Homo sapiens: one gene and its partner. The protein of the gene in region 2 purifies or fractionates together with the protein of the main gene of each other region. This does not show direct contact. Each region holds a gene or a part of one and is shown on either strand. Other genes may lie near its edges.

The links. The genes of interacting proteins can lie anywhere in the genome.
Region 1: the proteins of UBL4B (region 2) and AARSD1 purify together in Homo sapiens (affinity purification with mass spectrometry, with the first as the bait; one large-scale study listed by BioGRID). This does not show direct contact.

Annotation. Positions count from the first base shown.
Region 1 is NC_000017.11:42,961,655-42,966,492, forward strand, and holds the start of AARSD1 (alanyl-tRNA editing protein Aarsd1), read right to left. Parts: upstream 2,801-4,838; 5' UTR 2,787-2,800; coding exon 2,748-2,786; intron 2,584-2,747; coding exon 2,452-2,583; intron 1-2,451. Other genes in the region: PTGES3L-AARSD1 protein, read right to left, coding at 2,452-2,583. UniProt on the Homo sapiens protein: Functions in trans to edit the amino acid moiety from incorrectly charged tRNA(Ala).
Region 2 is NC_000001.11:110,111,004-110,114,447, reverse strand, and holds UBL4B (ubiquitin-like protein 4B), read right to left. Parts: upstream 2,006-3,444; 5' UTR 1,914-2,005; coding exon 1,389-1,913; 3' UTR 501-1,388; downstream 1-500.

The sequences.
Region 1 (4,838 bases), on a different chromosome or scaffold from region 2:
TTTTGTAGTCTCTAAAATGATCTGATTTTTCCTCCCTCCCTCCACTCCATCCTCTTGCAGTGGTATTAGAATTAGATTCAAAAATGTTCATTTAGGCTGGGCATGGTAGCTTATTCCTGTAATCCCACCACTTTGGGAGACCAAGGCAGGAGGATCGCTTGAGATCAGACTGGACAACACAGTGAGACCCCACCTCTATGAAAAATAAAAAATTAGCTGGCCATGATACTCCCTGCTACTTGGGAGGCTGAGGTGGGAGAATCACTTGAGCCCAAAAGGTTGAGACTGCAGTGTGCTATGATTGCTCCACTACACTCCAGCCTGGGTGACAGAGTGAGACACTGTCTCATTTAAAAAAAAAAAAGGGCCAGGTACAGTGGCTCACACCTGTAATCCCAGTACTTTGGAAGGCCGAGGTGGGCGGATCACAAGGTCAGGAGATCAAGACCATCCTGGCCAACATGGTGAAACCCCGTCTCTACTAAAATACAAAAAATTAACTGGGCATGGTGGTGCACACCTGTAGTCCTAGCTACTCGGGAGACTGAGGCAGGGGAATTGCTTGAACCTGGCAGACGGAGATTGCAGTAAGCCGAGATCACGCCGCTGCGCTCCAGCCTGGCAACAGAGCAAGACACCATCTCAAAAAAAAAAAAAAAAAAAGTTCATTCATTTTAAAACATTTCAAGTGCCAACTGCTTACAAAAGACTGTGCCAGCCCAAGAATACAATGTAAACAAGATATGGTACCTCATGGAACTTAAGAGTCTAGAGAACAGAGGCTGGAAAACAGACAATTGCAATATGACCTATAACATGCCATAATATGAAAAAGTATATGACGCTAGAGAACCTCAAAGGAAAGAGACCTAACAGTCTTGGGGAATCAAAAAAAGACTTCCTGAAAGAAATGCTGTCTAAAATGAGACCTTCTATGGATACTTGAGGTCACAGGTTTTCCTTCAGCAGATCAGGGAAATCTTCATACTGGGAAAATCACCATAATAATGACTGATATGAAATTGGAACTCTCTCAATACCAAGTCTACTGAACATGTTCTCTCATGTCACTTATTTGCTTAAGAACCTGAGTGGAGGCCAGGGCAGTGGCTCACACCTGTAGGCCCAGCCTTTGGGAGGCCAAGGTGGGAGGACTGTTTGAGGCCAGGAGCTCAAGATCAGCCTGGGCAATAAAGTGAGACCTCATCTCTACAAAAAAGCAGCCAAGCATGTTGGTTGTGCGCCTGTAGTCCCCACTACTGGAGAGGCTAAAACAGGAGGATTGCTTGAGCCTGGGAGTTCGAGGCTGCAGTGAGCTAGATCAGGCCACTGCACTCCAGCCTGGGTGACATAGCAAGATCCTGTCTCTTAAAAATAAAAAAGAAAGAAAATAACCTGCATGGTTCGCTGCCCACACACCTTAATACACCTTTTTTTTTTCTTTTGAGACGGAGTCTTGTTCTGTCCCCCACGCTGAAGTGCAGTGGCACAATCTTGGCTCACTGCAACTTCAGCCTCCCGGTTCAAGTGATTCTCATGCCTCAGCCTCCCGAGTAGCTGGGACTACAGGGGCCTGCCAGTATGCCTGGTTAATTTTTATATTTTTAGTAGAGACAAGGTTTCATCATGTTGGTCAGGCTACTTGGGAGGCTGAGACAGGAGAATCACTTGAACCCAGGAGGCGGAGGTTGCAGAGCTGAGATCATGCCACTGCACTTCAGCCTGATGACAGCGAGAGATTCTGTCTCAAAAAAAAAAAGAAAGAAAGAAAGAAAAGAAAAGAAAGAAAAGCCTTTCTCATAATGCCCACCTTTGGTGTTATTATCCTCCTCTTCCATCTTCACAATGTACCTCACTTGCGCTCATGTTGTACCTAGTCCTCATCACAGCACTGATAAATATGCTCTCTGCTGTACTACTGTAACCCGTCTATCTCACCTGAACTCCTTCAGGAACATCTTTTTCAGTCCCTAAAACCCGAAGCTAATTCCTTCCTTGGGGCCTTTGCACCTGCTATTCTACCTGCCTGAATACTCCCTCTGCCCCCCAGCACCACTAGATAATTGCAAAGACTCACCCCCTCACTTCGTTTAGGTCTCTACTGAAATAACTTACCCTTCATCTAGACAAGCATCCCATCACTCTCTTTCCCTTTACTTGGTTTTTGTTTATTACTTATTATACCTAGCACACACAGTTGTCTTCAATAAACATTCCACGTATATAAAGGCACTGTGTTGTTCACCGGTTATCCTTACAGCCTGGAATAATATCTAGCATATGTTATGTCTAGATAAGCAATTGCTGATAAATACTCATTAAATGAATAACAAAATGAATTAAACTAAAGCTCATCTGAATTCATTATGGCTGAGAAAAAAGGGGCAGGAGAGCATTTCGGCCTGAGCACAAAGAAACTGGGGGCTTCCTGGGAAGAGATCGTTTTGGTACCTGTCCCCCGCCCTCAGGGAAAAGCACTGTGTCTTCCAGCACCACTTGGAAACCGCTCAGCACTTCTTTCTTGCCGTTGCTCCCTTCAGTCTGCAGCTCCGCGGGACAGCAGGAGACCACGGTGGTGGTGAACTGAACAGAGAGGAATGAGAGAATAAGCCCCGACCCCAGCCCTAGCCCTAGCCCTCTCCACACCAGGACAGAATGCCATGTTGGCACTCCCTACACGTGGCGCCCTCTTCCCCAAACCGCCTTGCCGGCCCGGCAGTCTCAAGTGCCTCGCCGTGACGCCGTACCTCTCGGGCATAACTGTCACGCTGACACCAGAACGCCATACCTGCAGGCGTGTGAGGAGGCGCACGCGCAGAGAAGCCTGGGAGCGAACGGAGAGCGACGTGGGACAAACGTCATCAAGGGCGCTTGTCTGCGCAGAAGCAGGAGGGTAAGGAATGGAATGCGGTTTGGATAAATTTACTGAAAACGCGAATTGCATATTTGCTGGGTTGTTTAACGACTGTTCTAAGGCTTTACAAAGGACAAGACCAGGAGGAAAAAAACAAACAAACAAAAACAAAAAAACGCGACCTGGACAAGGCACGTGGTTTAGTGAGCCCCTTGGGGCCCCAGGGATGTAAGTATTCTGGCTGCGGAATCCCAGCGCATAGAGGCGGGGACGGGACTGGCATGGTTACTGAGCAGCACTGCCCAGTAGAAATAGAAAGCAAGGAGCTGGGGGAGGTGGCTCACGCCTGTAATCCCAGCATTTTGGGAGGTCGAGGCGGGTGGATCACCTCAGGCCAGGAGTTCGAGACCAGCCTGGCCAACATAGCGAAACTCCGTCTCTACTAAAAATACAAAAATTAGCCGGGCGTGGTGGCGGGCGCCTGTAATCCCAGCTACCCGGGAGGCTGAGGCAGGAGAATCGCTGGAACCCGGGAGGCGGGGTTGCAGTGAGCAGAGATTGCACCACTGCACTCCAGCCTGGGCGACAGAGCGAGACTCCGTCTCAATTAAAAAAAAAAAAAAAAAAAAAAAAAAAGGCCGAGCGCGGTGACTCACGCCTGTAATCCCAGCACTTTGGGAGGCCGAGGCGGGCGGATCACGAGGTCAGGATATCGAGACCATCCTGACTAACGCGGTGAAATCCCGTCTCTACTAAAAATACAAAAAATTAGCCGGGCGTGGTGGCGGACGCCTGTAGTCCCAGCTACTCCGGAGGCTGAGGCAGGAGAATGGCGTGAACCTGGGAGGCGGAGCTTGCAGTGAGCCGAGATCGCACCATTGCACTCCAGCCTGGGCGACAGAGCGAGACTCCGTCTCAAAAAAAAAAAAAAAAAAAAAAAAGAAGAACAATTTGGCCAGCGTGGCCAACATGGTGAAACCCTGTTTCTACTAAAAACACAAAAACATTAGCCAGGCGTGGTGGCACACGCCTATATAATCCCAGCTACACGGGAGGCTGAGGCAGGAGAATCACTTTAACCCGAGAGGAGGAGGTTGCAGTGAGCCGAAATCGTACCACTGCACTCCAGCCTGGGTAACCCAGCGAGACTACGTCTCAAGAAAATTACATTACATTACATTAAAATAGTTTGGGCCAGACACAGTGGCTCACATCTGTAATCCCAGCAGTTTGGGAGGCCGAGGTGCCTGGATCAGCTGAGGCCAGAAGTTCGATACCAGCCTGGCCAACATGGCAAAACCCTGTGTCTACTAAAAATACAAAAATTAGCTCGGTGTGGTGGCGGGCACCTACAGGCTGGGATTACATCCCAGCTTCTAAGGAGGCTGAAGCAGGAGAATCGCTTGAACCTGGCAGGCGGAGGTTGCCGTGAACTGAGATCGCGATACTGCACTCCAGCCTGGCTGACAAAGCGAGACTTCGTCTCAAAAAAAAAAAAAAAAAAAAAAAAAAAAAAAGCAAATTAAACCAGGTGCTAATTTTTATCTTGTCAAATATCTGAAACGATTTAGAGAATGGAACACTCTCATTGTTCGTAGGAGTGAGAATTGGTACAATTTCATCAAAGAGCAACTTGGTAACAGCTATCAAAATGTTTAAATGTATTTTATCTACTCCTTGACCTAGCAATTCTACTTCTAGAAATGTACCCTACAGATATCCTGGCAAAAATATGTAAAGATCCACATTTTTAAATGTTGATTGCAATATTGTTTGCAAATGGTAAAAGACTGCCGGACGCGGTGGCTCATGCCTGTAATCCCGGCACTTTGGGAGGCCGAGGCAGGTGGATCACCTGAGGTCAGGAGTTCTAGACCAGCCTGGCCAACGTGGTAAAACCCCGTCTCTACTAAAAATACAAAAATTAGCTGGGCCTGGTGGCAGGCGCCTGTAATCCCAGCTACTAGGGGAGCCGAGGCAAGAG
Region 2 (3,444 bases):
GTTGGACAGTCTTTGCCTCTAACCGTCACCAACACTCATGGGGTAAGTAGATGCTGTTATAAGGATGCCCATGCAACAGGTGGGAAACCTGAGCATCAGACAGGAAAAGCAGGTTACCCATGGCCACACAGCTGGACTCGGACTGGAAGAGAGGATGAGGGGCCCTGCAGGCCAAGGACAGGATGCTTCCTAGGGAAGGGGGCCCTGCTTGTTCAAGACATTCTCCTCCACCCCTTCCCTCCATCCCCATCACTCAGGACTGAAACTTTTGCAATAACAGCATTTCAGGGGCTTCAGCAGTGAATGGGGGACCACAGCTCCCCACTCCCTCCCACTCACACACAGAGTGTGGGGACTCCTCAGCCTCTGCAAGGGCCACTCTCTCACTCAAAGAACAGAGTAAAGGGCCTGGCTTTCCTCGTAGTCTGCAGGGGACTGGCCCCTCTATGCTGAACCCAGGGCCCCGTGAGGCCCCGTGCATTCAGTCACACACACTAGACTCTAGTTTCATGTCACCACTTTACTTTTCACATGTATAGCAGCTCTCTGCATCTAGGCTGCGTGCTCTGTGAGGGCAAGGATCCTCATTGACAGATACCATTTTTCCTTCCAGGGAGCCTTGGGCAGCGCTGGGCAGGTAATGTGAGCTGTGATACCTACTGACTGATCAGTCTGGGAGGGTGGGGCATGGCTCTGTTCACGCTGGCCACAGGGAGTGTATGACTTTGCTGAACTTTTTTTCTGCCTGAGGCTCAGTTTCCTGCTATTCTTGGTCTGTGTCTGTCTCCCTGAGGGCTCCAGGGCTGGCACCCGGTACGTGCCCTCCTCCCACTCTCACCTCTGCTGTGCCTGTCCCTTAAGCTGGAAGCACAAGCAGGAGAACAGCAGGGGCAGCCTCACCCAGAAGGCAAGGGGCAGCTACCTGACATTCCTCTCCTCTTGGCTGCTGGGGAGCCTAGGGGAGATGTCACGGTCTGAGGATGGAGGAAAATGAACTCACATTGTCTTTCTGTCCCGAAGGAGAAAGAGGGTCTGCCTAGAACCATGGAGACCCTGGGCCAGGGCTGCTTTCAGCCTGGGGAGCTGCTGGGTATGTGTGGGCAAAGCTGCCAGCACAGGAGGGGACTGTGGCCTTTGGGGCTGCCCTCCGGTGATCAGAACCCTTCTAGGGGAAGCATGGTGATGAGGGTTGGTTCACTCTGCATTTCAGAGGGAGGACCTCAGGCCCAAGAGGGGACAGGGATCCAAAAACCCTCCAGCTGCTTGGAAGGTTCAAAAAGGGGTGTGGACGCATCCACATCAGCAGGAAGTAGTAGGAAAAGTCACCAGGGAACACGTAAGGATGAGGCCGGGAGAATTTTAGCATGCAAATGGGTAGGATGGCCCGTTTACTGATCAGCTGCTGCCTCCTCCTTCTCCTCCATGTCACAGGAGCTCTGAGGCCGTGCCTTCGCCTCAAGCTCCCTCTCTCCAGCTGGCTCCACGTGAGGCTCCTCTGCCAGGAGGTACTGGGCCAGCTGCTCCAGGTGCTCCAGGCTTATCTTCTGCAGGCGCTCCTCGTGCTCCTGCCTTAGCAGCTGCAGCACGGCCTTGGCATCCTGTGGTTCAAAGTGTTTAGCTAGGACCAGTCCCAGCTGGTGCCACAGGGGCTGGGTCTGCGGCTGGTGGGCCTCCTTTAGCGCCATCTTCTCCAAGGGCTGCATGATGACATTGATAGAGGCATTGGGCCCAATGCAGTAGTCAGAGAGGTGCTTGTCATCCTCCAGGAGCTGGCCACGGAAAAGCAGGTGCTGCTGCTCCTCAGGCACCTTCAGCCGCCTGGACACCAGTCTCTTCAGCGTGGCTACACTCTCTTGCCCTGACACCTTCAGACTGCATCTCTGGCCCAGGAGCAGCTTGACTGTGAGGAACATCGGGCTGAGTGGAATCAGGAGGGATCCATGCTCTGGGAGCTGCCCTGAAGATTAGGGGGTCCTGCGGGAGATGTTGGCTTCTCCCTATCAACAAAGGGCTAGTAGTCCCAGGAGACCAGGGACCCAGCTTAGGCAGGCAGCCATTGGCTAGTGCACGGTGATGTCACAATGCTGCGGGGGGGCTCATTTCCAGAGTGGAACTTTTGGGACAGCAAAGGGGTATTTGGGCCCAGAGCATCCTTCCTCCACGAGAGGAGAAAAAGAGCACTAGGAAAGAAAATGTGGGACTGGGGGAAATGAGAGTGAGACTAGGGAAAGGGAGGGAGGGAAAGGACAGGGTGGTGGGAGGAGCATGTCTATTGATTTCTTCAACACATGTGTATTAGGTGCCACCTCTGTGCCAGCACCTGGACCTGGGGAGACAGTCATATTCAGATGGATGACTTCTGCCTTCATGACACTTTCACACTAGTGAGCTGGCTAGCATTTATCAAGCGTCCTCTTTCTGTCAAGCACTTTACACGCTCTTTTGGATTGGGCTTTCCAGCAGCAGACACTGAGACAGGGATTTGAGAACAAGTACTCAATTAGGAGGTGATCCCAGGAGGCACCAGGAGGGGAGTGAGGATGTGAGATGAGGACGGGAGGGAAATCAAAACGTGCATTCATGAGCAGGTTGCCATTGTGGGCAACTAGTATGTTATCCTGCTGGGGAGTTCTGGGAGGTTGCATGGAACACACCTGAGTTGCACCAGGTGTGGTTTTTTTGTTTTTTTTTTTGTTTTTTGAGACAGGGTCTCACTCTGTTGCCCAGGCTGGAGTGCAGTGGCATGATCTCGGCTCACTGCAACCTCCGTTTCCTGGGTTCAAGTAATTCTCCTGTGTCAGCCTCCCAAGTAACTGGGGCTACAGCTGCACGCCACCATGCCTGGCTAATTTTTGTATTTTTAGTAGAGATGGGTTTCTCCATGCTGCCCAGGCTGATCTCAAACTCCCAGACACAAGCAATCTGCCTGCTTTGGCCTCCCAAAGTGCTGAGGTTACAGGCGTGAGCCACCGCACCTGGCCGAACCTGCATCTTTATGCTCTGACTCCTGTCTTTGGCTAATAGAAGTGCTACCTCCTTGGCACTTCTGGTCCACAGGTGTTAAGCAGCATGCTCCTGTGACCACAGAAAAGTAGGAAGCCATCGGGCCCTCAGGAATGTGAGTGCTGAGGGGATGGGGCAGGACAGCCCACAGCATCTGCATCACAGGCCTGCCTAATTGAATCCTCTCAACCTATGAGGCAGGCACTGCCATGATCTCCATCTGCCAGAGGAGAAAGTGGAGGCTTGGCTGATCCTACAGCAAGCAGGCAGAATTGCTCTTGTCTTCACTGTTACCTCATGTTGCCTCCTAAACAAATCTCTGCTCAGTGCCTTTTGTGGCCCAGGCCCTGAGCAGGCACCCCCGGCTCAAAGGTGAATATGAAAAAGGACACTGATTGGGCCTCCTCTGTGTCTGCAACTTCTGCAGCATTTGGCAGTTTT